Homo sapiens: one gene and its partners. The protein of the gene in region 4 interacts with the protein of the main gene of each other region in a pairwise test. Each region holds a gene or a part of one and is shown on either strand. Other genes may lie near its edges. The genes, in order: PHLDA2, CCDC13, SYTL4 and FCHO1.

Region 1 (7,346 bases), on a different chromosome or scaffold from region 4:
CGCACTGGCCACTGTGTAACCTGGGTGAGTCACCACCTCTCTGAAACCCCCACCCAGTGTTCCCTGCAAACCCAAGAAAGCAGTCTCAACAGGGAGAAATGACCGCACAGAACTAGCACGGGGCAGGGCCACACGGACTCTCCTGCCGGTGCCTGGCCCTGGCATCTCTCCGGCAGGTGGTTCCTCCGCCTCCAGCACGTGAGTGGTCCAGAACCCTCGTAGAAGCAGGTCCCATGGGGTGTGGCCGAATCCACGCCGGGTTCCAATCTCTGTGCTGTGCTGGAGAAGCTCCCAGGCTCTTGGCTATCAAATGGCTCTAGGAGGGGCATTCCTCAAAAGACCCTCATGTGGGGTCCCTGTGTCAGCACTCTTCTGCCTCAACATCCCTCCCCCACATCCCAGGAAGTGAGTGTCACAGCCCTCATCCTCCAGAGGGGACCCTCAGGCAGGCCTGCTCTGGGGGATAGAGATAGGGTCCCTCCTTGGAAAGGTGACCTTGACAAGTCACTGCACCTCTCTGAGCCACCCTTTCTGCATCTGCAGCTTGGGGCCAGTGCTTCTCCTGGGGGCACCGCTCAGCCCCAGGTGGGACCAGGTGAGGCGGTGAGGCTCAGGCCTCAGGCAAGGGAGGCCGAGCGGGGGCTGGCAGAGGGCGGGTGGCTCAGAGGGGCAGACGGCAGTGTGAGTTAGTGGTGGTGGTAAAGCCCCTCGGGTGGATGGTGGACGCAGAGAGGATGGGGCAGCCCCTGTGTGCAAGTACCTGCCAAGTTGGCATGGTGTCCTCCAAGCCCCTCTCACCTCCTAAGGCCGTGGTTTATTTTTGCCCATGTCCATAAAGACACCCTGGGGGCTCCTGAAGTCACCTGCTGGTCCAGGGCTGGTAAGGCTTGGGAGTCGGCTCCCTCCAGCCCCCACATTGGCAACCAGGTTCAGGCTGGTTTGGCCGAGCAGGGGCCCAGGGTGTCTAGCAGCTGCTGGGGAGGCCAGGGCCACTACAACTGAGCCCCTGGGGCAGGGACTGTGGGCAGAGAAGCTGCCTGGGGAGGCCTGGCCTCCAGGGCTCAGACCTGATTTCCAGCAGCCCCTAAAGGGCCATCCACCCCCATACCCCCCAGGTCTTCACAGTGTCCATGAGGGGAATAGCAGAGAGGGGCTGAGTGGGCAGGAAATCCCCTAGGGAGGGCAGGGCCTCTGAATCTCGGCTGCACACCCTGCCCCCTGGCCTCCCAGCTCCTGCCCCACCTGTCAGAGCATCACCCCTGGGTTGTAAGTCCTGCCCCCAGGGGAGTGAGTTTCCCAGCCTCCCTTGAGAGGGCCACTGGGGTACAGGCAAAGAGAGGAGCTGGGCGGGGCTGGGGGAGCACACCTCACCTGGCCTCACCTGGTTTCCAAACCCTCTTCCTCCCCCTCATTTCTCTCAGCCCCTTATCTGCTCCTGCCTGTTCTCTGTCCCTTCCCCAAGGCCCTCTCCATCCTGAACCAGTTTCCTCTTCTGTGGAACAGGGGCTGGAGTGCCCACTTTGGGGAGTTCTCTGGGTTAGGTGGAGGCTGGGCACAGTGGTGGCATACGGGCACCACTGGCCCTTCAAGGTCTCCTTGGAATCTTCGAGGGCACGCCCTCCCCACAGAGTCCTCCAAGCTGTCCTCCTGGCCTCCAGTACCCCCGACCCCTATCCCCATCCTCATGTACCTGCTGTGCCCCTGGGGTTTAGAGGGATTCCTCTCCCCTCCTCTGGGGTCCCAGCACCAGCCAGGCCTGCAGGCACACAGTAGGTGCTTAAGCAACCACGAGTGTCGGGGGATTTGCCTGGAGCCGAAGTTCCACTGGCTGGCCCCTCAATGGGGTAGGCAGGCTGGTGGGCCTGGAGGTGTTCCAGGCACCTGTGGGCTGGCGCAGTGACAGAGCGCTCTGCCCCCGGCCGCTTCTCCTGGTCTCCCACTGCCCAGAGGTGCCTCTTGCCCAGGTCCCACTGTCCGGCAGCCCAGGGCCCTCTGGAAGCAAAAGAAGGGACACCAGAGTCCGAATCCTTCCTGCAGCCTCTCCGGAACAATGCTCGAATCCCCTCTCCCCGCCAAAGGCTGACCTCCCCTCACCCACCCACCCTACCTGCTGCTCCCTCACCACAGGATCCCAGCCCTGCTGCAAGGACAGGTGTCAGGTAGGGGGCAGTGTTGACCCGCCGGCCCCAGGCAGGTGTCTCACTCCCAGGCCAGAACCCTGGCACAGCCCAACCCTGCCCTCTGCCGGCACTGCCCCTCCACACCACATCCCTGCCCACTGCCAGGTCCTCTGGCCACACCGGTGGGACCACCGGGCAGCTGCTACCTGCATGCCATTCACAGAACCGGGTCTGGGGCGCTCCTCTGAGCCGGACGTCTCTTTATCCTTTACAGTGACCCTGAAGGGCAGGTGGAGGTAGGGCTGGTCCCAGGTCTGGGTTTTACGCTCTGCTGCCACTGTCTTGACATTTTAAATACATTTTGAATCAGGGGACTCTCGTTTTCATTTTGCGTGAGCCCCGTCATTGAGGCCAATTCTGACCCCAGAGTTGGGACTTCCTGCTGTAACCACCCCAGGGCGCAGCTAGGGGGCAGGGGTGCGGGAAGGTGGGAGACGTGGAGTAGTAGCCGGGGTCTCTGGGGTCCTCTCGGCCGGCTCCACCCCCACCCCTGGGAACCCGGGAAGAGCCGGCTTTCGCTTCCTGTCTATTAAACCCTTTAAAGGAAGAGGGTAAATAAAACCGCCCGTCTGCCCAGCTGGAAAGCGATGACTCAGCCGCCCCCGCCGACCCTCGCCCCCAGGCTGATCCCAGAGAGCGGGCGTCGCGGCCCAGCCCGAACCCCTCAGCTCCTGGGACCTCTCTCCGGTCCGGGTCGTGGGGGCGCGGTCGGAGCAGTCCGTACCCCAGTTCGGGACACTACGAGGGCGCAGGGAGGAGAACGGGCTTCCTCTTCCCCTTCCATTTTCTGAGCTCTATGGGTTGCTGGTCTAGCCCTTTCCACGTGTTCCCTAATCCAGCAAAGGTTACTGTTCCCATTTCACAGAAGCGAAAACCGAGGCTAAGAGAGGTGGTCGTTCTTGGCGCAGCCCGTGGGTGGCAAGATAGGAGCTCGGTCCGCTAGGGCAGGGCCACTTTCGGAGAGGGTCTCTGGGCGGCCCTGGGAAAGGCCCCCGAACAGGACGGAACGGCCAGGGCTCGGGAGTAAGGAAGGGGGCCTCGACCCTCCTTCTGCCCCGGGAGCCCGAGAGCGGCAGGGCTGGACTTGGGGCGCCTGGAGGGTGAAGGTCTGGTCCCGGCTGTCTCCCCACGGTGGGCCGGCCCCGGGCCCGCGGGTGCTTCCCGGGGCTCCCCGGCGTGAGTCATCGCGGGCAGGGCTGGCTGCAGCGCATTCTTCCGCGGGGCCGGCCTGCGAGACGGTGCGGGCGAGCGCCCGGGCGGGGCGGGACCTCGAGTCACCCCACGGGGCCGGACAGCTGGGGCACGGGGGGCAAGAGGAGCGCGGGCTTCTGAGATGGGAGGGGACGGCCGGGGACCGACCAGAGCGCGGACGCGACGGTGCGGGCCCGGACGGCTGGGCTTGGGGAGGGTATGGCCCGGGGCGCGCGGGGCTCAGGCGGGCGGGGTGGCCCGAGGGCCGGGGCGGGGCGGGGAGGGGCGGGGCGGGGAGGGGCAGCTATAAAGGCCGCGCCGGGGCCACGAGGAGCAGAGCCGGCGCCGTCACCGCCCGCATTGCCGCTCCCAGTCCCGCGCTCGGCACGACATGAAATCCCCCGACGAGGTGCTACGCGAGGGCGAGTTGGAGAAGCGCAGCGACAGCCTCTTCCAGCTATGGAAGAAGAAGCGCGGGGTGCTCACCTCCGACCGCCTGAGCCTGTTCCCCGCCAGCCCCCGCGCGCGCCCCAAGGAGCTGCGCTTCCACTCCATCCTCAAGGTGGACTGCGTGGAGCGCACGGGCAAGTACGTGTACTTCACCATCGTCACCACCGACCACAAGGAGATCGACTTCCGCTGCGCGGGCGAGAGCTGCTGGAACGCGGCCATCGCGCTGGCGCTCATCGATTTCCAGAACCGCCGCGCCCTGCAGGACTTTCGCAGCCGCCAGGAACGCACCGCACCCGCCGCACCCGCCGAGGACGCCGTGGCTGCCGCGGCCGCCGCACCCTCCGAGCCCTCGGAGCCCTCCAGGCCATCCCCGCAGCCCAAACCCCGCACGCCATGAGCCCGCCGCGGTGAGTGACTGCCCGCGTCCCGGCGAGCCCTGCGCCCTAACAGCCGGGACCGGGGCCTTTGGGAAAAACCACTTCAACCCCAGACGGCGGGGCGGGGGCGCTGCACCTCCTTGGGGGACCCGGCGCCCCGCAATCGCGCTGGCCCCCTCGCGTCAGGGTCTCGGGGCCCCTCAGGCTGGACCCGGACCGGCCCTGGCACAGCTCTCTGACCCAGTCCTTTCCCCACAGGGCCATACGCTGGACGAGTCGGACCGAGGCTAGGACGTGGCCGGCGCTCTCCAGCCCTGCAGCAGAAGAACTTCCCGTGCGCGCGGATCCTCGCTCCGTTGCACGGGCGCCTTAAGTTATTGGACTATCTAATATCTATGTATTTATTTCGCTGGTTCTTTGTAGTCACATATTTTATAGTCTTAATATCTTGTTTTTGCATCACTGTGCCCATTGCAAATAAATCACTTGGCCAGTTTGCTTTTCTACCATCCGGCTGTGGCTCAGTGAGACTCCTGCTGGGAGGGTGGAGGCCCAGGAATGGGCGGGCAGGACACCCTCATCCAGTCCTGCGGGGCTGGTGTGAAAGGCGCTGGGAACCGGCTTTGAATGAATAAATGAATCGTGTCATCTGCTGGGCCTGGTCCACACCCTCTTTTCCAAGCAGCCTCCCCAGAGGCCAGGAAGTGCCCTGGGGCTTGACCCTGGCTACCTTCTGCTCCTTGGTGTGTCCTGAGGAATTGAACCTGGGGAGGACAAGGGCCCTGGGTCCGAGCTGCTGCTGCCTGTGGTGGGGGAACCTTCCCCAGCAGCACTTCCTGCCCACAAACCACCCGCGCAGTCAGACCAGAAGGAATCCCTCAGCCCTCTGGCTGCCCGCCGCCAGCCGCTCCTTGCCAGTGCCCGCAGTGTGGGGCGGGCAGGGTCGCCTTTGCTTCTGGGGGAACAGGAGAGAGTTCTGGGCTGTCTCCGATGGTGGGGCAGGAGGCAGAGGTCCCTGCACCTCCAGGTACTGGCCCAGGACATTGGGGTGGAGAGGCCTGAGTGCAGCAAATCCCTGCCCCTCTTTCTGAGATAGCTGACCACGGCTTTCTGCCCTCCGGTCTGGCTGTGCTCTTTGAAAGACAGGGATGGTCTGAGACAGTTAGGGTTCAGGAAGTGTGTCCCCCACCCAGAAGGGCTCCTGGTGATGAACAAGCTGAGGAGGTGATAAGGGGTACAGGCATGACTCCTCACCCCACAATGGGGCCTTCATTTCTGGAACCTTCGTGGTTGGAGGGATGCCAGTAGGGGAGGCAGAGAAGTACCAGAATTGGACCCTAATCTCTGTTGCTAGGAGGCCGACGAAGCCTGGTAGCTGGTCTGGGCTCAGGGCGGGGAGGGTGCTATCCCTTCGCTGCATGGCCCGCAGGAGTCTTGGTGCTAGGTCCAGAAGAAACTATTGCCTGCAAGGAAGTTTCTCCCGAACGCAATTTGTGAAGCCCCTGTGCAGATCGGGGAGGGGCTCCTGCAAAAAGCAGAAAACAGCAGCCAAGGACGCTGCCTGGCTGGGCTCCTGGGCCTCCTGGCTGGCCCACCAGAGCCTCACCTGGATGGATATCCAAGGTCAAGAGGAGAGCCCTTGCCCCTGGGTGCTTCAAGCATAGGCATGATCCGGCCTGAGCTTTAGGCGAAGAGGGTGGATGGCCCTTGGCTCACTGAGGCCACTTCTTGTTTGAGGAATTTTGGAATTCCTCAAATTCTGAGGACAGTGGAATTCTAAGGTTTGGGGAGTCCATGTTTCAACAGCTTCTTTTAAAAGCAGCCCGAGGAGAGGAGGGGCGGCCTTCATGGTCTCAGGGGCAGCTGCAGACCCTCGCTGAGGCTGTGGAAAGCCTGTCCTCTCCAGATGGGTCAATCGGTCACAGCGGCTGGGCTGGCCTCCTCATGCCCAGTTCTCCTCCCCAGAGCCCAGGACCAGGGGGTGGGGGTGAGGGGTCGGGAAGTGCTGTGGTCAGGAGGCTGGGAAGGCAACGGTACATGGCCTGGCCAGCAAATCAGCTATAGAAGGGACCCCCAGTTCCCAGGCCATGGATGGGTACTGGTCCATAGCCTGTTAGTAGCTGGGCCGCACAGCAGGAGGTGAGCAGCGGGGCAAGCATGACCGCCTGAATTCCACCTCTCGCCAGATCAGCGGCAGCAGTAGATTCTCACAGGGACGAGAACCTTGTTGTGAACTGTGCACAAGAGGGATCAAGGTTGAGCACTCCCCATGAGAATCTAATACCAGATGATCTGGGGTGAAACAGTTTCATCTGGCCCACCCACATCCGTGGAAAAATTGCCTTCCATAAAACTGGTCCCTGGTGCGGAAAATGTTGGGGGCCACTGAGCTGTAGGATGAAGAGGCTGAGATAAGGGGACACCAGAGGAGTTCTGGGGTTCATGTGGCTGGCAGTGTCTGGTGCGGTTCTGGGGTTCGGGTGGCTGGCAGTGTCTGGTGCAGTTCTGGGATTCGGGTGGCTGGCAGTGTCTGGTACGGTTCTGGGGTTCGGGTGGCTGGCAGTGTCTGGTACGGTTCTGGGGTTCGGGTGGCTGGCAGTGTCTGGTACGGTTCTGGGGTTCGGGTGGCTGGCAGTGTCTGGTGCGGTTCTGGGGTTCGGGTGGCTGGCAGTGTCTGGTGCGGTTCTGGGGTTCGGGTGGCTGGCAGTGTCTGGTGCGGTTCTGGGGTTCGGGTGGCTGGCACTGTCTGGTGCGGTTCTGGGGTTCGGGTGGCTGGCAGTGTCTGGTGCGGTTCTGGGGTTCGGGTGGCTGGCACTGTCTGGTGCGGTTCTGGGGTTCGGGTGGCTGGCAGTGTCTGGTGCGGTTCTGGGGTTCGGGTGGCTGGCAGTGTCTGGTGCGGTTCTGGGGTTCGGGTGGCTGGCAGTGTCTGGTGCGGTTCTGGGGTTCGGGTGGCTGGCAGCCTCCTTGGTACAGTTCTGCGACCAGGGTTTGGGTCTGTGTGCTGGACTGTTCAGCAGAATGAGGGCATTTTTCCTTCCATCTAGGAAGGCCTCAGTTCCCTGATCTTTTTTTTTTTTTTGAGATGGAGTCTCGCTCTGTTGCCAGGCTGGAATGCAATGATGGGATCTTGGCTCACTGCAACCTC
Region 2 (7,924 bases), on a different chromosome or scaffold from region 4:
AGAATATTTATTTATTTATTTATTTATTTATTTATTTATTTATTTATTTATTTTAGAGACAGGGTCTTGCTCTGTTGCCCCGACTGGAGTGCAGTGGTGCAATCATGGCTCACTGTAACCTCTGCCTCCCGGGCTCAAGCAATCCTCCCAGCTCAGCCTCCTAAGCAGCTGGGACCACAGGCACAGGCAACTGTGCCTGGATAATTTTATATATATATATACACACACACATATATATATACACATATACACACACACACATAAATATATAAATATAAATATATATATATATAAAATTTGGTAGAGACGGGGTTTCACCATGTTGCCCAGGCTGGTCTTGAACTTGAACTCCTGGGCTCGAGAGATCTGCCCACCTCAGCCTCCCAAAGTGCTGGGCAAGGAGGAACTTTCTAACAGACAGACCACCTAAGACTGGGTGGGCTTCTCGGAAGATGGCAGTCACTTACAGGAGATACTGAAGAGGGGAAGGCAGGGTTTGGAAACAGACTGCCTCAAAGCCTCACAGATTGTGTGACTGCGCACAGGTAACTCTCTGAATCTCAGTTCCCTCATCTGTAAGATGGGCCTAAGAGTAACACTGCCCTGCGTAACACTGTTATGAGGATTCAGTATTGTGAAGTTGTCTGAGCCTGGGAATCCTCTGAGGTTCTTCTTGGACTGAAATCTTGGTGCTTACTCCAGATCAACAAACTACAGTTCTAGCGGAAGGGACATGGAATCTGCATTTTAAATGCTACAGGTTATTTTTAGGATTAGGTAACTTTGCAAAATCCCAAGATGGTCTAGGTGAAGCTGTCAACACAGCCTGGCACATGTGGGCCTTCAGCAAGTGGCAGGTAGATGTCATCCCACAGAACAATGCCCTTATCACCCTTATAACGCTAGGGTAGAAGCAGACAACTCCTAGGGTCCTTCTGACCCTGGTTTCCCTATCAACACAACCAAATGACAAAACAATGTTGGTAAACTTGAGCCAGGAAAGGAAGCACAATTCGCTAGGCTCCCTGGCAAAGGGCAGGAGCACAGCTTTGAAGGCACCCACCAGTGCCCTCGTGTGGCGCTGTGAGGCAATTCCATTTAATCATTAAAGAATACTGTTACCTTTAAGAATTTGACATACAGGGCCGGGCGTGGTGGCTCATGCCTGTAATCCCAGCACTTTGGCAAGCCGAGGTGGGCGGATCACGAGGTCAGGAGATCGAGACCATCCTGGCTAACACAGTGAAACCTCGTCTCTACTAAAAATACAAAAAATTAGCCGGGCGTGGTGGCGGGCAAATGTAGTCTCAGCTACTCAGGAGGCTGAGGCAGGAGAATGGCGTGAACCCGGGAGGCGGAGCTTGCAGTGAGCCGAGATCGCACCACTGCACTCCAGCCTGGGTGATAGAGCGAGACTCCGTCTCAAAAAAAAAAAAAAAAAAAAAAAAAGAATTTGACATGTAACTTAATGACAATAAGAAGTAAGTTGTTTTGTGCTTATTATGGTCAGGCACTGTCCTAGGTGCTTTACAAATGTTATTTTATGTTACCCCATTTCACAGGTGTGAAGATGAAGACATAGGAAGATGAAGGGGTTTGCCCAAGGTCAGAGTTGGCAGACCGGTGGCCAAACGTAAACTCAGGTCTCTTGAACCCCAAGGCCATGCACTATCATCTATTAGCTTCTTGGAGTTTTTCCCCCTTTATATTGGCTTCAAGGATCCCATGGGAGACACTGAAGATAAAAGCCACTGTGACCCTCGAAGTCCCTGGGAACAAGGGTGATATGCTTGGCAAATGGTGGAAGTCATACACCTTCTCACATGTTTCTCAGTTTGAAGGGACAAAGGGAAAAGAACCACACCTAACTTTTATACAGTGCTTCCTCCATGCCAGGCCCTGTGCTGAGCATTTTACAAGTATTGACTCAATTCTCCCAACAATCCTGTGGGGTAGGCATCGTTATTATCCCCATTATACAGATGAGGAAACTGAGGCACAGAGCTAAAGGAACTTGCTTAAGGTCACACAGCTGGTGAGTGGAGAGCTGGGATTTGAATCTGAGCAGTGTGGCTCCAGAGCCCCTGCTGTTAGCTGCTTTTGGTATGCTCCAAAATATTCAGACAATAAAGAGGGAGACAAGGCTAAATTTTTATTGGGTAATTAAACTTTCAAAAGACTACAAGCATCTGGACAAAACTGGAAAAAGCTTACAATTACAACAGTCACGCAAATCTACATAAACTAAGAAAAAAAAAAGATGCCTGGAGTAAAATAAATCAAACCAAAGGCGTTGGCATTTGTTAAGCTCCAGTGCCTGGCATGTGCTAAGTGTTATATAAGAGCTTGTTCATTAAATAACAAATTAAAATCAGGCTGGTTGGCGAGAAGGTAAAACAACAACCCCGCACGAGTGCACTGTGAGACCTAAAGGCCTTTTTTGGGTACTGTGTGCTTAGGTCTCTAAGGGGGTCAGGGCAGCTCTTTCTGGGGTGTTTTAAATCCTTTGTTCAGGCCAGGAGAAGTCTGATGACTCACTCACCTTGCTCTGCAAAACAAGAATTTGTTGAGCCCGACCCCTCCAGGTCCCTGGCGAAGATAGGAGCTGCTGAACGTTGATGTCTTCCCCAACCTCTCTGGCCAAAACCTGAAATAAGGCAGGGCCTTCAATGTGGCCAAAAGAGAGGGCTCCACCAGACCCTGATGCTGCTACGTATTTAGAAGCATATTCAGAAGCAGTCTTCACCTACACGATCTTCTTCCCATCTCAGAGCATAGCCCTCAAAGGTCAGTTTTCCATGTCCCAAGGGCAGCTCTCCCTGGGAAAGTAGTAAACCCATCATCCCTGGCATTTCTTGGCAATGCTTAGAGCAGCCAAGAAACTGCCAGCAATGCCCAGATAGGGCCCCTTGCTCTTGACATATTCTGGGATGACTGAACCACAAAGCTGACCAACTCCTGCTTCCTTAACCCACTCACCTGTCACCTAGTGCTGAGCTAATTCTGGCTATAGGAAGTACATCACCACAGGACCCTAGCCTTTGTGAAAACCCACGGACAAGTGGACCTCTGAGTGCAGCAAAAGGTGGGCTACTGAATGTCAGTTGGGGTGCTGTGGTCCAAGAAGGACCCAGCTTTGCGGTTGTTGAAGTGCAGCACTCAGGCCCAACCTCAAGGCTTTGAGGCAGAAACAATACGCTCCAGCTTGTGACCTGGGCCCCTCTGAAGCCTGTCACAGAAACCCGATCCAGCGTACCAAGTCTCTGGCACTTGTTTCCACAATAGAACACTGTTTTGGAAATCTTGGCCAGTCTGAGTGGTTCCAGCAGGGAAGACAAATGCCAGAGAATTCGCTATGTAAATAAAAATAAATAACGAACCAGCTGGGCCTGTGTCCCAAGTCTGAGCATTTTCCTTTGAAAGGGTCCTTTAATACACAAGTAACCTATTCATTTTCTGTTACAGATAGCAGAGAAGAAGGCAGGTGTTGGCAGGCTTTCAAGTTAAGTAAGGGTGACATTAAGGGGAGACCCAGGATCTACTGGGGCACAAGTAGTGCAGGGAAGGCTTAATGGACTCTCCCTGGGTGGACAGTGCTGTCCTCCTCAGTCTAGAGCTGGGCAGGCACCACAAGGGCAGGTATGCTGCGGGGGTGGGGGTGGCAGGCTCAGGTAGCCAGCGACTCTGCCCACCAAATGGTTATGGACCAAGGGCTGGTGGGAGGAAGGACTGGAACTGGAGCCTGACCCAGAGCAAGCAGTGTGCTCAAGGGACTGAGCACTCATGGCTCCAGAAAGGAATCCACTGTGCCAGCCGTGCTCTTCCCAAGTCCAGCCCCAGCCACACAAGAAGCCCCAAGCCCTGGCTCTGAAAGACCTTCTGTGCCATCCGCAGCTCCTGCTTCACAGACTGGATCTGGTTTCGGAGGTCACTCATCTTCAAGTTGGTGGCCACCAGCCTGTCCTGCAGGGCCTTCACCTCTGGGGTCTCCAGCTGGTTGGGAAGGACAGGAGAGAAAGTAGTCATTTATTGCCTACATGGGAATAGTAATCATAGCCCCCATTTATCCAAGTCTGTGCCAGGCACTGTGCTAAGTGTTTGACATGGAAGAACTCATTTAATCCTCATAAACCCCTGTGAGGTAGGTTCTCTTGTAAGCCCCTTATAGATGCAAAATGGAGGGTGGTGGAAGGTAAGTCCTCTACTTGAGCTACCTGGTTAATAAAGGTGGAACCTGGATTTGAATCCTGGCAGCTTAACTTTGGGACTGAGCTTTTTGCAGAGTGTTGCACACACACATGTGGGTGTATGCCTTACCCTAGAGGTGAAGCATCTGGAGGAAGCGGCAGGCTCCACGCCTCCCAGACACTTCCTGGGTGTGGACCCACTGCTGTGCTCAGAGACTGGCATCACAGCTAATCCATCTTCACTCAGAATAAAGAGGAAACCACGTTATTCCCCGAAGGCAAGCCCAGCGTGGCAGGAGAGCCATGGCATCCTAATTCAGGATCTGCCTCTCCCAGAATCGTCAGCTTGGGCCTTGGTCTTTTGACAGCTGAGGGGCCTTGGGCTCTCTTTCCTAGCAGTGACCACTGAATAGAAATAAGGACCCATTTTAATTTCCAAATGCTCATCTCTGTGGCTTGAAGAACTACAGCAACCATGAAAACTGCCTGCTGAAACTCTTAGCAATGTCTTTTTTTTTTTTAACCCAATGTTTTATTTAAACTATCTGGATGGAAATTTTTCTTAAATGGGCTGACTACTTCTCTGTCTTCAATAGACACTCCTGTGACTCATAGATATTTGACAAAGGGACCTTCAAGGTCAGCCCATTTAAACCCCTTCCATAATGATGAAAATAAGGCCCAGAGAGGGGAGGTAATTTGCCTTCAGGCATACAGCTGGTTGGGGTGACACAGGTGGGATGAGAAAGAATACTTGTCCTTCCCCTGCCCTGGCTGACTCTTCCAATTTAAGCTGCTGTTAATGCTGGGCATTGTGGCCACAGGAACGTTGGTTGTCAGGCTGAGCATCCCATCAGGCAATGACGCTGAGGCCCTCTGCTGCTGCCCCAACAGGGCAAAGCAGCTGAACTTCAGGAAGCAGGGCTGGTACTACAGTGGCTTTCTGACCTTTCTCTAGCAGGCACAAACAAAATCTCCTCTGAATGCTAGTGTGAAAGACAGATCCAAGTATACTGGGTCCGGGAAGTTCCATGGACCCCAGAGGCTCTGGGCAGCCCAGCTGAAAACCACTGGCCAAAGAAACTAGACATGAACACCTGGTCCAGAAACTCTGGCCTCATCCAGTGTCCTCATCTATGGAATGAGTATACAAATACTTTCCTGCTCCGCTTCCTCAGAGCACCACCATCAGGCTAAAGAGAACAGCCAACGTGAACAGAATGTGCCAACTCGGAACTTATATGAAACATAATCTCAGCTCACTGCAACCTCCGCCCCCCCGGGTTGAAGCGATTCTCCTGCCTCAGCCTCCCGAGTAGCTGGGATTACAGGTGCCCACCACCATGCCTGGCTAATTTTTGTATATTTTTTAGTAGAGATGGGGTTTCACCATGTTAGCCAGGCTGGTCTTGAACTCCAGACCTCAGGTGATCCACCTGCCTTGGCCTCCCAAAGTGCTGGGATTACAGATGTGAGCCACCGTGCCCGGCCATCCTTTTTTTTAAAGTATATTTTCTTCTGTGTTCTTCCTCCTGTCTGGCCGCCTGCCATCCCTGCATACTCTGTTGGGTGCCTGCCTCTTCTCCTGTTGAATGTGTGGCTTTGAATCTGCCCTGGGTTGGGAAGCAACACCCCTCCACCCCCTGCCACGCCCCGCCCTGCCTGTCAGATCTCTAGCGCCATGAGCCCCAGTGGCCCTGACAGTGGGGGTGCTGAGAGCTGTGGGAGTACATGTGCTTCCATATGGCTGCAGTGACCCTGCAGCATCTCTTTGATCTGCTCAGAGCATGGAAAAAGCATACAGATTGGATCTGGCTCTAGAACCTGGGCAGTGATGCCCTGTCCAAGCCTCATTTTCTCATCTGTAAAATGGGGATATGTAATGCCAATCTCCAGGGAACCTGAGAGGGTTGCTAGGACAACGCATGTCAAGGGTGCTGTCTGGGGCAGGTCCTGATGGAGGGCAATGCTGGCAGGCCTAGCCTGGCTTGAGTGGGCAGCTGACAAGTGGGCTGAGGGCTAGATGGTGTTCTGGAGAGGGCTGGATCAGGCCCCGTCCTCCTAGCTTAGGCAGTTGAGCTAATCCTACCTCTAAGCCATTTCAGAGTTCTTTCTTCCCAGAGTGAAATTCCACAGGCTTTGTGGGGGACCTGGGTATGGGTACGCTCCCTCCCCTACCCGAGGCTGTTTTCTTTGAGAAAATAACTAAAGCGCAGTACATGGGGAGCAGATGATGCCAACGCTACTCACATCACGGCCTCCTGAAGCCCCAAGCAGAGGGAAGGGTGTTCAGCTCCACTCTGGAATGTGCTTTGGAGGCCTAGGGTTGGAATGTGGATTGAGCCTGCAGGCCTCTGGAGTGTGGCTCGGGCTTGGGCCGCCCTGAGCAGCCTATGAGGGGAAACATTGCTTTTGCTCTCGCTCTGATCAGGAGATGCCAGGGAGAACACGTGGTGCTGATGAATTGAGACCTGCGGCCCATCACACACTCTTCTCTCAGAACCTGGAACCTCCCAGGCTCCCTGTGGCCACAGAATAAAGTCAAAACTCCTGCTCCAGCTGCCATTCAAGGGCTCCCTCTATGGGTGACTTCACCCCAGCTTTTTTGGCTTTCGTTCCCCTTTTCTCCCGTGTGAGCTCTGGGCTGCAGTCAAATGTTATCCAGCTGACACTCAGTTCACCTTCCCCATCTTCCTTCTCCAGTAAGGCCAGCTCAGGGACGCCCTCCTCCGTCCCACCTTCCAGCTGCAACCTTAATGGAGGGTGGACTCCCCTGTGAGCTTAGAGCACCGGGGCCATCTCTGAAGGCCCTGTCCACATCCTGCCTTCGAATGACTTCTCATTCCTCCTCTGGGATTCTCCATAGACAGAGCCTCTGTTTTTTTGGTGGTTGTTGTAGTTGTTTGTTTGTTTGTTTTGAGACACAGTCTCACTCTGTCACCCAGGCTGGAGTGCAGTGGCGCTATCTCAGCTCACTGCAACCTCTGCCTCCCAGGTTCAAGCGATTCTCATGCCTCAGCCTCCTGAGTAGCTGGGATTACAGGCGTTCGCCACCATGCCTGGCTAATTGTTGTATTTTTACTAGAGATGGTGTTTCACCATGTTGGCCAGGCTGGTCTCGAACTCCTGGCCTCAAGTGATCCATCAGCCTCAGCCTCCCAAAGTGCTGGGATTACGGGCATGAGCCACCTCACCCGGTCAAGGCTCTATTTTTGATTCTCTGTGCCACAGGGCTTAGAAAATCCCATCAGGCTGAACAAGCAGTTTCCTATCCAGGGCAGCCCTAGTTCGGAATGTGGAGGTGCTCAATGCGTGGAATAAACCAGGGGCAGCTTAGCAGTGTCCCCTGAAGCCAGGAAAGGCCCTGAAGAATACTCAGCCCCTGTAGAGGGCAGAGCCCCTCTTCTACTTCCCCAGCAATGAGACAGGTTTACACAAGACTACTCTTGAGGAGGCACATTCACCTCGGAACCTGAGGGCCCATCCCCGCCGGAACCTGAGGGGCCCATCACTGCACAGCGAGGACTGAATTATCCTCAAGGAAGGCACAGGGCAGTCTGATCCTGAGGTGCAGGCAGCAGGGAAGATGGGGCTAGAAAACAAGCACCAAATTGGGAGTCCCGGGGCTTGGCTGCCTCTCTCACCAACTGGCCTGGCTTCCCAAGAAAACCCTTGGTGAAGCCTCCTGGAATGTTAGACTCTGATGATATTTACTATCTGATTTGGGGATAAACCAA
Region 3 (7,924 bases), on a different chromosome or scaffold from region 4:
AGTTCTAAGGGGAAAAGAGGTATGAGTTTTCATAATTCAGTAAGTATAACTTGAGATAAAGCAAGATACTCAAAATGCCTAGATGGACCTTCTTAGCCCCCATATATGTAAATATTTGATCCTGGTATTATCATTAGTTACAAATAAAGCTACACATACAGGAATCAGCACATCAATAAGGATGTTCTTTTAGTTTATAAAAATAATCTCCCCCACTAGATTGTAAGCTGTATGACAGAAGGGACTTTGTTTTGTTCATTTCTGTACCTTTGGTGCCTAGAGCACTGCCTGGATCATAATATGCACAAAATAAATATTTGTTGAATGAATGAGCTGGCATCAAGAATACCATATATCATATTCAGCCACACCCAAGAGCTTATCATCTAGGACTTCTCCACCTTTGATATCACTGATTCAACACCCCCTCTCTGACCACAACCTGCTGTGCTTCTAGCCTATTCAGCCAATGAGCCCCCCAACTAGCCCCATTCCTGTTCTCAGATTTCTTGGATGGGGGCAGTCTTCCATAGACCCTTCTGCTTTCACCTCCTCAGCTCCTTCCCATCTTTACTTCCTTCCCAATAACATTTAAATTTTATTGTTTCTTTCTCTTTTTTTTTTCTGAGACTTTTTCTCTATTGCTCTGGCTGGAGTGCAGTGGCATGATCTTGGCTCACTGCAACCACTGCCTCCTGGATTCAAGCGATTCTCCTGCCTCAGCCTCCCAAGTAGCTGGGATTACAGGTGTGCGCCACCATGCCCGGCTAATTTTTGTATTTTTAGTAGAGATGGGGTTTCACCATGTTGGCCAGACTGGTCTCGAGCTCCTAACCTCAGGTGATCCACCCGCCTCAGCCTCCCAAAGTGCTGGGATTACTGGTGTGAGCCACCGCACCCAGCCAATTCTATTGTTTCAACTGCACTCTTGTCAATATCCTCAATAATGCATAATTTCACTGCAAATATCTGATTTAAAAAACCATAGCTCTTCTAAGCCCAACTGTTATACTTTATGCATGCACAAGGACTCCTGAGATCTACTGGAGAAAAAAAAATCACACTCTGGTAGATTATTATCCATATGAATTCTTGGTCACCAAGCTCATCTTAACCCTGCCTGGCACTGCAACTATGCTTCCCTAGGCTGCTCTCCTGTTCTCCACAATAACTATTTCAAACCTTCTTCAAATACCACAAATATCTAACTCAAACCTTGTCCCATCTTAACCCCTGCTCTAAGAGGTTGGCCTTAACTATTATATCATAGAGAAATAGAAATACCATCAGACAAGTTCCTGCCGCCAAATCTATGAACCTACTTTCATCTATGCCTATTGAGGATAATCCTCTACCTCAATCTGGATCCCCTCCCATCTGGCATAAGGACTTTGCCTTCCAAGGATTTTGCTCTATTAATTAGTCCCTCCTTCCCACCAGCCTTTAAAGGAACTCAAGTCCTTCCTAAATAAATAAATAAATAAATAAATAACAGGTCCTCAATCTCAACTCCTTCCTTGCTACTACCCTTTCTCTGCTCTTCAAAGCCAGACAGATTTCTCTAAGGAATTGTACATAATCACTGCCTTCACTTCCTCATCTCTCCAATCATTTCTCAACCCACCATAGTTTAGCTTTCTGCCTCACAGTTCTCTGAAATTGCTCTAAGGTCACCAAGAACTTCCTAAATCCAATAGACAGTTCTTGGTCTTCCTAGATTTCTCTGGATCTTTAGTACCACTGACCATATTTTTAACATAGCCATTTCATTTTGAGAAACTTATTCTGCTGATATTCAAGTAAATTCACAAATATATATTCTGAGGATGCTCAATATTTGAAACAGCAAAAAAAAAAAAATTAAAGAACATAAACATCCATCAAAGGAAACTGACTAGTTATTGTACACACATATTAGGGAATATTGTGCCTTTGTTAAAAAGAAGAAGGTACGGTCTCCCTCTGATGCAGAGGTGAAGCTGGACTGTACTGCTGCCATCTCGGCTCACTGCAACCTCCCTGCCTGATTCTCCTGCCTCAGCCTGCCGAGTGCCTGCGATCGCAGGCGCGCGCCGCCACGCCTGACTGGTTTTCGTATTTTTTTGGTGGAGATGGGATTTCGCTGTGTTGGCCGGGCTGGTCTCCAGCTCCTAACCACGAGTGATCCGCCAGCCTTGGCTTCCCGAGGTGCTGGGATTGCAGACGGAGTGTCGTTCACTCAGTGCTCAATAGTGCCCAGGCTGGAGTGCAGTAGCGTGATCTCGGCTCACTACAACCTCCACCTCCCAGCCGCCTCCCTTGGCCTCCCAAAGTGCCGAGATTGCAGCCTCTGCCCGGCCGCCACCCCATCTGGGAAGTGAGGAGTGTCTCTGCCTGGCCGCCATCCCATCTAGGAAGTGAGGAGCGCCTCATCCCGGCCGCCATCCCATCTAGGCAGTGAGGAGCGTCTCTGCCCGGCCGCCCATCGTCTGAGATGTGGGGAGCGCCTCTGCCCTGCCGCCCCGTCTGGGATGTGAGGAGCGTCTCTGCCCGGCCGCCCCGTCTGAGAAGTGAGGAGCCCCTCCGCCCGGCAGCCGCACCGTCTGAGAAGTGAGGAGTCCCTCCGCCCGGCAGCCACCCCGTCTGGGAAGTGAGGAGCGTCTCCGCCTGGCAGCCACCCCGTCCGGGAGGGAGGTGGGGGTCAGCCCCCGCCAGGCCAGCCACCCTGTCCGGGAGGGAGGTGGGGGGTCAGCCCCCGCCAGGCCAGCCGCCCCGTCAGGGAGGGAGGTGGGGGGGTCAGCCCCCCGCCCGGCCAGCCGCCCCGTCCGGGAGGGAGGTGGGGGGGGTCAGCCCCCCGCCCAGCCAGCCGCCCCGTCCGGGAGGTGAGGGGCGCCTCTGCCCGGCCGCCCCTGCTGGGAAGTGAGGAGCCCCTCTGCCCGGCCAGCCGCCCCGTCCGGGAGGGAGGTGGGGGGGGTCAGCCCCCCACACGGCCAGCCGCCCCGTCCGGGAGGGAGGTGGGGGGGTCATCAGCTCCCCCGCCCGGCCAGCCGCCCCGTCCAGGAGGGAGGTGGGGGGGGTCAGCGCCCCGCCCGGCCAGCCGCCCCATCCGGGAGGTGAGGGGCGCCTCTGCCCGGCCGCCCCTACTGGGAAGTGAGGAGCCCCTCTGCCCGGCCACCACCCCGTCTGGGAGGTGTACCCAACAGCTCATTGAGAACGGGCCATGATGACAATGGCGGTTTTGTGGAATAGAAAGGGGGGAAAGGTGGGGAAAAGATTGAGAAATCGGATGGTTGCCATGTCTGTGTAGAAAGAGGTAGACATGGGAGACTTTTCATTTTGTGCTGTACTAAGAAAAATTCTTCTTCCTTGGGATCCTGTTGATCTGTGACCTTGCCCCCAACCCTGTGCTCTCTGAAACATGTGCTGTGTCCACTCAGGGTTGAATGGATTAAGGGTGGTGCAAGAGGTGCTTTGTTAAACAGATGCTTGAAGGCAGCATGCTCGTTAAGAGTCATCACCACTCCCTAATCTCAAGTACCCAGGGACACAAACACTGCGGAAGGCCGCAGGGTCCTCTGGCCTAGGAAAACCAGAGGCCTCTGTTCACTTGTTTATCTGCTGACCTTCCCTCCACTATTGTCCTGTGACCCTGCCAAATCCCCCTCTGCGAGAAACACCCAAGAATGATCAATAAAAAGAAAAAAGAAAAAAAAAAAAAGAAGAAGGTACTGTAGTTCTATATATACTGACACTGAAAGCATATTAAATTAAAAAAATTGCAAATCATATATATTATGATTCCATTTTTATTTGTTTACATTTTAGACAGATTGGATCATGGATGAATGGAAAAATGTCTAGAAAGAAATACAATCTTAACATTGTTACCTCTGGAGAGTGGGATAAGCAGGAACAGAAGATTTATATGTTACCTTTTATTGAGTCAAGTAATAAAAATGTAGTCCCATCCCTAAGCACAGCAACACTTCTAGGTAAGAAAAAAATTTCACAGGAGATCAAAAGGGAATGGCCGTAGAGACTAGGGGAAAATATTTTAAGGTCACCAGGGCTAAGAGAGAAAGGAGAGAAGTGTAGCTAATGGTTTCAAACATGGAATGAGAGATCTATTAAAAACAAGAAGAGGTAAGTATCCAATAGACAGAGAGCGTGAATAGATAATTCTTAAAGGGGAAAAATCACATGGCCAATACACATCAAAAAGAAAAAGTTTCACTCTTACTGGCAATAAAGATTTTTTTATGTTTGCTTATTAATTCAGCAAAATTTCAGAAAGACAATTTTCAGTTTTTAAAAAGGATTTAAGAGATATTCTCATATTTTGTTGGCAAATGTAAATTAGTAAGGCCTGTTAAAAAGCAATGTGACAATCTGATTTCTAAGAAAACTGAACTTCACAGAACTTATCACAATTGTAATTAAAAAATTATGTGATACAATATTTAATATACACTTCCCCTGCCGAAATAAGTTCCAGGAGAAAAATGGCCATTGTCTACCTTCTTCTCAGCCATACCTCAAGCATCTAGCTGGGTTGATGGATGGATAGATGGATAAATCTACATTGTAGGATCCTGACTGTAGGCTCTCAGTTGGTGCAACGTAAATCCTCAGTAAATCAACACAGAGCATGGCACAACATAGGCCCTCAGTAAATCAAATCACGCTTTCTGATGAGTTTAAAGACACTGATACTAATGGTATTCTGATGCCTGAATCGATAGAGCTACAAACAAGAAGCAGTGTAGATGCCATGGAAATTTTCTACTTCTTAAAAATTACTCAAGGTCAAGTTAGGTTTAGATAGTCACAGATATGAATATGAAAGCCACAGTGGTCCATCATTTCAACTATTCTTCTGCCAGGGCCATCCAATCTCCAGCCCTCTCCCTATTTCTGTCACGGCCACCCGGAAAAAATTCCCCATACTAGATTGTCCACACTCTGTTCCTGGTCTGATGAGTGCTGCCAGACAGAATGGATACAGGGTTCTGCGACTTGAGGCAGAGACAAATTCAAGTTACCCAAGCCATTTTAAAACTTTTTTCCAGTTTTATGGAGGTATACTTGACAAAAATTGTGTCTATTTATGGTGTACAGCATGATATTTTGAAATACACATACATAACCTGGATGATATGCCCCTAAAGAACTCCTCTTTTCGTCTCTCTCAAATGCTATTCCAACCCTTCACCATTCTTGCCTTCTTTACTCTCTGGTGAACCTTTCACTCTCTTGTTGGGGGCGGAGGGGCTCTCTCAAAATCCTGTCCCTCCACAGGTACTTCCTTCTCCATAGTTTTTACCAAGAGGATTGGTGAATCCTCTTGTTTCAATGGAAGAGCCACCACTTTTTCTCTAAGGCTAGTCTTTTCTCCTCTTTCACTCTGGCACTCCCACCCTCTGACTTTCTCGGGGACCTTGCATCATCAAGCTGTATGCCATCTGCACATAAATGGGCTCATCTATCTCTTATATTTAAAGTAAAACAAAATTAAATAAAACAGCCTTTTTATCCCCTGTGCCTTACTGTCTATAAGGAACACTCTCTCCTTCCCATCATAGCCAAGCTTCTTCAATGTATATACTACATGTTTTTAATTATATAAATTTATGGGGTACACATGCAATTTTGTTACATATGCAGTGGTTAAGTCAGAGACTTTAGGGTATCTATAACCTGAATAACATACATTGTACCCATTAAGAAATTTCTCATCATCTACCCTTCTCCCACCCCTCACCCTTCTGAGTCTCCATTGTCTATCATCCCACTCTCCATGTCCATGTGTATCTACCATATTTTTTATCAGTCCTTCTCAGTCCTCACTGCCCAACCCTCTACGATCTGCCTTCTCTCCTCCTGCTGCACTGATGTTGTCATTGGCCTCCTAATTGCCAAATCTAATGAACGTGTTTTTTAAATGTTTTATAGTGGGTTTTATCTGATTACGAGAGGGGTACACATCATGAACAAAGTTATGACATATGACAGACTAGAGAGAAAAAAACTTGCACTATATAATAGGCAATGGGTAAATATAACTAATAAATATAGTGTTCTTACAAACAAATCAAATATATAACCCAAAAGATAAATGTGCAAAGGATATAAAGGAGCAAGTCTTGGAAAAATACAAATAGCTAGCACAAATGAAAAGATGCTCAGCCACACTAGTGATCAGAGAAATGCCAAGTTAAATCAGTTAGATACTATTTTTCACCTATCAGATTGGAAAAAATTAAAAGCGTCATCCATCCTCAGCAAGGGCAGGAGGAAAACCACTCGCAATGGTGAAAGGGTAAACCCTCTTAGATGTCACTCTGGTGATGCCTATTTAAATTGTTTAATGTATATGTCCTTTGACCTAACAATTCTCCTATTAGAAAGCTATCCCACAAAAATACTTGTGTATATATATATCCTTGAGCATTATGCAAGAATGTTTGTGGCAGACGTGTGGTGGCTTGGACTAGGGTGACAGGCAGAGGAGATGGAGACGTGTGGCAGAACACATGATACAGTCTGAAGATCAGGTCAGCAGGACTCCCTCATGAATTAAATTGGGTGGAGAGCAGTGATAGAAAAAGAAGAATCAAGGGTGATCTTAGGTTCTTGGTTTGAGCAACTGAATGGATGATGGTGACATTTTACTGAGACAGGGAGTGCTGAGGGAAGAGGGTGGGAATACAAGGGCAATCGGGAGTGCCGTTTTGGCCACGTTACATTTGAGAGGTCTATCTGATAGGCAAGCAGAGATGTCAAATAGGTCATTGGATATATGAGGCTGCAGCTTAGAAGAAAGGCCTGGGTAACAAACATAAATTTGGGAGTGACAACAGTCTAGACAGATGTTCTTCAAAGCCATGCAGCTGGATGAGAGCCTCTGTGAAGATTTTAGATGGAGAAAAGTCCAGGGACTGAACCCCAGGTCACTGCAATGTTCAAAGGCTGGGGAGACAAATTTAGTAGAAAAAGAAGCTGGTCAGCTTTTTGTACAAATTTGAGTTTCAAATAAGTTAACATATATTAAATGATGAGAATCACATATTTACCACCTTTTGAAGGGCCCAACTCCTTCCAAGTCTGTCTTCTAAGAGATTCTGGCCTCTTCCTTTCTGAACATTTCAAAACACTTTTAAACAGAATAGCACTTTTTTCTTTTATGTTACACAGTGGTTTCTCCAGACTGCACAGTCATCCTGGTAGAAAACTAGTTAAGTACAACACAAATAGCACTCAGCTACGGCTTTTCCATAAAGTTCCATAATCCAATAACCACCTCATACCTAAAAGGCTATGGGTAACTTGAAACCAGAAGCCTAATTTGTGCCATCCGTTATTCTTTTGAGCTGTTCACTTCCCCATTGCACAGTAACTTTCTCCAGCCTCTTATTGATCTTGCGAGAAGCCTGAAAAGCCTCAAGACATCTGACAATCCACACCCCTTCCTCCCAGTGCAGTCCCCCTTCCTACCAACAAGAAGCACAACATTTTTACATTTCCACTTTTAAACTTTAGAGATTTCCACCCAGAGACTCATACTTTTAAAAAATAGAGAGGCCAGGAGCGGTGGCTCACGCCTGTAATCCCAGCACTTTGGGAGGCCGAGGAGGGCAGATCACGAGGTCAGAAGATCGAGACCATCCTGGCTAACACGGTGAAATCCCGTCTCTACTAAAAACACAAAAAGCTAGCCGGGCATGGTGGCGGGCGCCTGTAGTTCCAGCTACTCGGGAGGCTGAGGCAGGAGAATGGCATGAACCCAGGAGGCAGAGCTTGCAGTGAGCCAAGATCGCGCCACTGTACTCTAGCCTGGGCGACACAGCGAAACTCTGCCTCAAAAAAAAAAAAAAGTAAGAGAGAGGAAGTACTTCCAACTAGGTCAAAGTTGGCATCAGGAATGCAATCTCAAAGCAAAAATCAG
Region 4 (6,330 bases):
CCTAGCACCTTGGGAGGCTGAGGCGGGCGGACCATGAGGTCAGGAGTTTGGGATCAGCCTGGCCAGCATGGAGAAACCCTGTCTCTACTAAAAATACAAAAATTAGCCAGGCATGGTGGCGCACCCCTGTAATCCCAGCTACTTGGGAGGCCGAGGCAGGAGAATTGCTTGAACGTGGGAGGCAGAGGTTGCAGTGAGCCGAGATCACGCCATTGCACTCCAGCTCTGGGCAACAGAGGAAGACTCCGTCTCAGGGCGGGGGGGAAGTGTGTGTGTATATATATATATATATATATGTATATACATGAAAAGAAGTCAAATTGTCTCTCTTTGCAACATGAACTTATGTATAGGAAGGCCTAAACACACCACCAAAAAACTCCTAGAACTGATAAACAAATTCAGTTAAATTGCAAAATACAAATATCAACATGAAAATCAGTAGCGTTTCTATACACCATTAATAAAATATAGCTGAAAAGAAATCAAGAAAGTGATCCCATTTATACTAGCTACAAAAAAAAAAAAGTGTGTTAAATTGAGTTGCTGGATCAAACCAACCCTGAAAGCCACATTCCCCCATAATCATTTGATCTTATAAGCCAATACAGTCCCCGTTGCTTAAGTCACTGTAGTTGTGTTTTCTGTTCTTGTCAACATGGAAATTCCGCCTATGAGAACCCAAATTAGGGTCCAGGTTTGAGTTCTCTCCCAGGACCCACCAAAGCCCAGCACAGAATGAGAGACAGAAAGGGCATTTGAGTTCGTTGAATAAATAAACAAATGATTCTGCTGTTACCTGTTAGTGCCACTGGGAACTGAGTATTTCTACCCTGGTGCCTGCGAATGCCTTCACAAAATCTCTTTACTCCAATTTCTGGGGTTGTCATGGTGGGGGAGGCCAGGGCTGCACTGTGTGACCCAGGCAAGTCACTGCCCCCTCTGAGCTTTTAGGAGCTCCTCATTAAGATGGGGCAGGGAGGTTAGGCGCGGTGGCTCACCCCTGTAATCCCAGCACTTTGGGAGGCTGAGGCAGGCAGATCACTTGAGGTCTTGAGTTCGAGACCAGCCTGGCCAAAATGGTGAAACCCCGTGTTTACTAAAAATGCAAAATTAGCCAAGCATGGTGGCAGGTGCCTGTAATCCCAGCTACTCAGGAAGCTGAGGCAGGAGAATCACTTGAACCCGGGAGGCGGAGGTTACAATGAGCCAAAATCATGTCACTACACTACAGCCTGGGAGACATCTGCCTCTTACATGGAGATGATACAAGCAGCAAGATAATCCATGTCAATGCTCCCCAAAGCCCCAAAGGCCACTCTAGTTTTTGCTAATTCGTAACATTAGTTATTAATAGTTAGCATTTGTTTTAAATTTGCTTATGCTTCTTCCCCAAAGACATTTATGTTAAAGGGCAACTTTTTCTGCCACTCTCAATGGAAAATTGGGACCCTCTGCCGCATGAAAGGAGTAGGAAAAAATGAGGCAACAACTATATCTTAACGCCGGCCAGATTCTGTCACCTGGGAAGGGCATCATGCCTGAACACTACTAAGCTGTCCATTAAAAATGGTAATCAGGCCGGGCGCGGTGCCTCACACCTGTAGTCCCAGCACTTTGGGAAGCCGAGGCAGGCAGATTATCTGAGGTCAGGAGTTCGAGACCAGACTGGCCAACATGGTGAAACCCCGTCTCTACTAAAAATACAAAAATTAGCCAGGCGTGGTGGCACATGCCTATAACCCCAGCTATTCGGAGGCTGAGGCAGGAGAATCGCTTGAACCCGGGAGGCAGAGGTTGTAGTGAGCTGAGATCGTGCCATTGCACTCCAGCCTGGGTGACATAGCAAGACTCTGTCCCCCAATGCAAAAAAAAAAAAAAAGATGGCAAAACAGGAGACACAACATATTTCAGGATGAGGCAGGAATGCCTCAAATCATGGCTAATATTTAATGCTGATGTAGAGGTGTTGGCAAATGCAGTAAGGTAAGAAAAATAATTGAGACCAGATTATATGACCATCTACAGAAAACAAAAAATAATAAACAATATGAATAGAACTGAGGAAAAGGCTAAAAGCAAGACCAATATAGATTAAACATGAGGATTTTTTTTTTAACAGGCGTGTGCCACCACACCTGGCTGATTTTTGTATTTTTAGTATAGACAGGGTTTCACCATGTTGGTCAAGCTGGTCTTGAACTCCTGACCTCAACTGATCTGCCTGCCTCGGCCTCCCAAAGTGCTGGGATTACAGGCGTGAACCACCACGCCCGGCCTCATACACACCTTCTGATCCCGCTTCTCTCCACCCCTTGGAGACCTGGTCCTCTGCGCCCGCTGTTGGAATTGGACACCTTTAGATTTGGACTTAAAACTCACCATTACAACTTTAAAATCAATGACTAGATGGGTGTGGTGTCTCATGCGTGTAATCCCAGCACTTCAGGAGGCTGAGGCGGGCAAATCACTCGAGGTCAAGAGTTCAAGACCAGACTGGCCAACATGGTGAAACCCCGTCTCTACTAAAGATACAAAAATTAGCCAGACGTGGCAGTGGGCGCCTGTAGTCCCAAGTACTCGGGAGGCTGAGGCGGGAGAATTGCTTGAAGCAGGGAGGCAGAGGTTGCAGTGAGCTGAGATCCCGCCACTGCACTCCAGCCTGGCTGACAGAGCAAGACTCTGTCTCAAAAAAAAAAAAAAGGTAATCAGCTGGGGTCTGAGGGAACTGGGGACATTTTAGCACCAAATCAGGTCTTATAATAACACTGGAAGAGAAGGCTTGTGGAGGGATCTGATGCCATTTAAGTCCCAACACACATCAGTGAAGCCATCCCTCTGGCAGCATTTGGCGGGTTTTCCATAAATGGTAGTTTCCTGTGCCCTCCTCCAACCTACCAGGTTCACCCTCCCAGGTACCCGGAAGCTTGAATGTTATACATATTTTTCTATGTTTGAGACAGGGTCTCGCTCTGTCTCCCCAGCTGGAGTGCAGCGGCACAATCATGGCTCACTGCAGCCTCAAATTCCTGGGCTCAAGAGATCCTCCCACCCCAGCCTCCCAAGTAGCTGGAACCACAGCCATGTGACACCAGGCCTGGCTAGTTTTTTTTATTTTTAGTAGAGATACGGCCTTACTATGTTACCAAGGTTGGTCTCGAACTCCTGGACTCAAGCAATCCTCCCATCTCAGCCTCCCAAAGTGCTGAGATTACAGGCGTGAGTCACCACACTTGGCCAGAAGCCTGAAGGTTAAAGCCAGAAGTCACTGCTAGGTAACGTTTCCTGCTGCACCAATGGAGACACCGAAGCCAAGACTGGGGCAGACCCAGGTCAGCCTCAAGCCCAAATCTCCCAATGGTCACACTTCATTCTAGAATCATCAATGGGTCCCTATTGCCCACCAGATGCTGAAGTCCAAGTCCATGGCCTGGAATTGCTGCTCCAGCCTCATCTCCTAGCTTCTTCCTAGCCTCACCCACAAAACAGCAAATAGCAAAGACAGGCAGTGCCTTTCCACCACCACATTTTGTCCAGGCTATTCCCGCCATCAGCTCTCCAGCTTGCATCTCCTTCCACCCATCCACATCCTTCCACTTCCCAAGGATCATTGCCACCTGCTCTAGAAACTTCCCTAACCCTGCTCAACCCCCTCCCCCACTTCACTGTTGCTCCCTCCAGCTCGCCAGGAATACGTTTTCTCTTTTTTTTTTTTGAGACGGAGTCTCACTCTGTCACCCAGGTTGGAGTGCAGTGATGCGATCTTGGCTCACTGCAAGCTCTGTCTCCTGGGTTCACGCCATTCTCCTGCCTCAGCCTCCTCAATAGCTGGGACTACAGGTGCCCGCCACCATACCCGGCTAATTTTTTGTATTTTTAGTAGAGACGGGGTTTCACTGTGTTAGCCAGGATGGTCTCGATCTCCTGACCTTGTGATCCGCCTGCCTCGGCCTCCCAAATGCTGGGATTACAGGTGTGAGCCACCGCACCCGGCTTTTTTTTTTTTTTTTTTTTGAGACAGGGTCTTGCTCTGTCGCCCAGGCTGGAGTCCAGTGGTATGATCTTGGCTCACTGAAACCTCTGCCTCCCAGGCTCAAGCGATCCTCCCACCTCAGCCTCCCAAGTAGCTGGGACCACAGGTGCGCGCCACCACACCCAGCTAATTTTTTGTATTTTTAGTAGAGACGGGGTCTTGCTATGTTGCCCAGGCTGGTCTCAAAGTCCTGGGCTCAGGCGATCCGCCATCTCAGCTTCTCAAAGTGTTTGGATTACAGACGTGAGCTACCACGCTCCACCTATATTTTCTCTTCTTGTGTTTGGAATTATATTTTCAAAGTTCAAGTGTCCAATCTCCTTATACGTACAGGGTCACTTTGGGTTGGTGACTTCGTCTCTCTGGCCTCAGTTTCCTTCCTTGTGTGACAAATGGGGACAACAACAGCACCCAACTCCCAAGGGTCTTGCTGGGATGAGGCTGGCACAGTGCTGGCCCCAGGAGATCCTCGGGTGAGGCTGCACCAGGCACCACCGCCCAGAGCAGCATCTGGGTCTGACTCAGAGCCAACTGCTGGCCCGTTTCCCAGACCTGGCAAACCCCCAGCAGCGTCTGCCTCTCTTGGACTGGGCTGGCAGCCGAGGGTCCTAGGAGGGGCTGTCTCAGGTCTGTCTCTCCCACCAGAACTTCTAGACTTCAGACTTGGCCTCTGTGCCAGCCAAAATGTGGTCTTTTTTTTTTTTTTTTTTTTTTAGACGGAGTCTCACTCCATCACCCAGGCTGGAGTGCAGTGGCGCGATCTCACTGCGACTTCCACCTCCCGGGTTCAAGCAATTCTCCTGCCTTAGCCTCTCGAGTAGCTGGGACTACAGGCTCATGCTACTATGCCCGGCTAATTTTTGTATTTTTAGTAGAGATGGGGTCTTGCCATGTTGGCCAGGCTGGTCTCCAATTCCTGACCTCAGGTGATCCGCCTCCCTCGGCCTCCCAAAGTGCTGGGATTACAGGCATGAGCCACTGCGCCCAGCCAAGAGTGTGGTCTTTGTAACAGAGCTTGTTTATGTCCCTCTCCTGCTCACACTTCCCCCATGGCTCCCTAGTACACTTCATGCTTCGGCCCTGCCCTGGCGCAATGAGACTGGGGCATCCCTGTTTGGCTTAATCTCCCCAGCACCACCCAGCAAAGAACCAGGCTTCTATGGCGGCTTCAATACTAGCAACTGATGACAGATGTCACAGGAGGCCTCCCTGAGTCTGGGGGTGTGTGGGGTGCATGGGGTGGGAGTGGCGGTGCAGGAATTTCATCCCTTTTTCCCAGATGGGGAAACAGAGGTTCGGGCAGGCAAAGTCATTTGCTCAAGGGCTTCCAGCAGAGTCAATTCGAATCCTGAACTCAAAGCTCTTAACCATTCTCTACCAGGATATCTTTGGGTGAGGTGGGGAAGTCGGGGGTGGTTTCTATTTTCTCTTTGCTGATCTGAATTTTCTGCAGCGAGCCTGCACGCCTCACACAATTAAAAAGGATTTAAAATAAATGTAGGTGCCACTGTCGGGGTTCCAAAATGCAGGTGACTTTTGATCCTCAAATGGTCACCTCCATTACACGGCAGTACTAAAAGGAGCTCAGAAAGGGGTAGCCCCTCACTGGAGTCACACAGCCTTTCAGGGGCAAATCGGGGAGTCTGACCTTTGGAGAGAGGGCGGAGGTCACACCCCTGCAGGTGGCAAGGGAGTGCGGCCCCTTTAAGAAAGCAAGTGCTTTCAAGAGGAGCCCCAGCTGGGGAGGGAGCAAGGGCAGGAGTGGGGCTTGTTGCCAGGGGCAACCAGTCGCCTAGCAACAGGCTTCCTCACTGCAAGCTCAGGGCCTGCAACTGGGGAAGGGGCTTTCTGACCTGGTCCTTCCCTGACTCCTGGGCCCTCCCCTGTTCACCCATCCTCTGTGGCACCCTGTTAGCCTGGCTCTGCAGGAGGAGTCCCTGTTCCCTGAACTTGCCACTCAATGTCACATCTCTGGTCTTTTGCCCAGGCTTTCTCACAGCAAACACGATTCTGTGTCCTGGTTCCTACTCTAGGACCCCCAAGGCTGGGTTCAGCCCTGGTCCTGCAGGGCTGAAGGTGTCTAAGCTGGCTCTGGGTCCCCCAGACTGGGGACTCCTCCCTTGGGGCTGGGGCTGGGATGGATTCTCTTGGAGACCCCAGCATCTCCTAGGGCTGGCTGGGGATGAGGTCACAGTGGCAGGGAGAGAGGAAATGAATGAATAAAAACAACTCTGTCTCACTCAGCAGCCCTTGGGCTACAGGAGGTGATCTCCAGCCTGGACAGTGGAGGGGTGCAC

What was found.
Region 1: the proteins of FCHO1 (region 4) and PHLDA2 interact in a two-hybrid assay, tested with the Homo sapiens proteins (one large-scale study listed by BioGRID).
Region 2: the proteins of FCHO1 (region 4) and CCDC13 interact in a two-hybrid assay, tested with the Homo sapiens proteins (one large-scale study listed by BioGRID).
Region 3: the proteins of FCHO1 (region 4) and SYTL4 interact in a two-hybrid assay, tested with the Homo sapiens proteins (one large-scale study listed by BioGRID).

Annotation. Positions count from the first base shown.
Region 1 is NC_000011.10:2,925,781-2,933,126, reverse strand, and holds PHLDA2 (pleckstrin homology-like domain family A member 2), read left to right. Parts: upstream 1-3,706; 5' UTR 3,707-3,762; coding exon 3,763-4,221; 3' UTR 4,222-4,231; intron 4,232-4,459; 3' UTR 4,460-4,854; downstream 4,855-7,346. UniProt on the Homo sapiens protein: Plays a role in regulating placenta growth. May act via its PH domain that competes with other PH domain-containing proteins, thereby preventing their binding to membrane lipids.
Region 2 is NC_000003.12:42,743,381-42,751,304, forward strand, and holds part of CCDC13 (coiled-coil domain-containing protein 13), read right to left. Parts: intron 7,136-7,924; exon of another isoform or gene 6,438-7,135; intron 3,994-6,437; coding exon 3,877-3,993; intron 2,648-3,876; coding exon 2,543-2,647; intron 1,779-2,542; exon of another isoform or gene 1,563-1,778; intron 1-1,562. UniProt on the Homo sapiens protein: Required for primary cilia formation and promotes the localization of the ciliopathy protein BBS4 to both centriolar satellites and cilia.
Region 3 is NC_000023.11:100,721,198-100,729,121, forward strand, and holds part of SYTL4 (synaptotagmin-like protein 4), read right to left. Parts: intron 1-7,924. UniProt on the Homo sapiens protein: Modulates exocytosis of dense-core granules and secretion of hormones in the pancreas and the pituitary. Interacts with vesicles containing negatively charged phospholipids in a Ca(2+)-independent manner.
Region 4 is NC_000019.10:17,755,600-17,761,929, reverse strand, and holds part of FCHO1 (F-BAR domain only protein 1), read right to left. Parts: intron 1-6,330. UniProt on the Homo sapiens protein: Functions in an early step of clathrin-mediated endocytosis. Has both a membrane binding/bending activity and the ability to recruit proteins essential to the formation of functional clathrin-coated pits.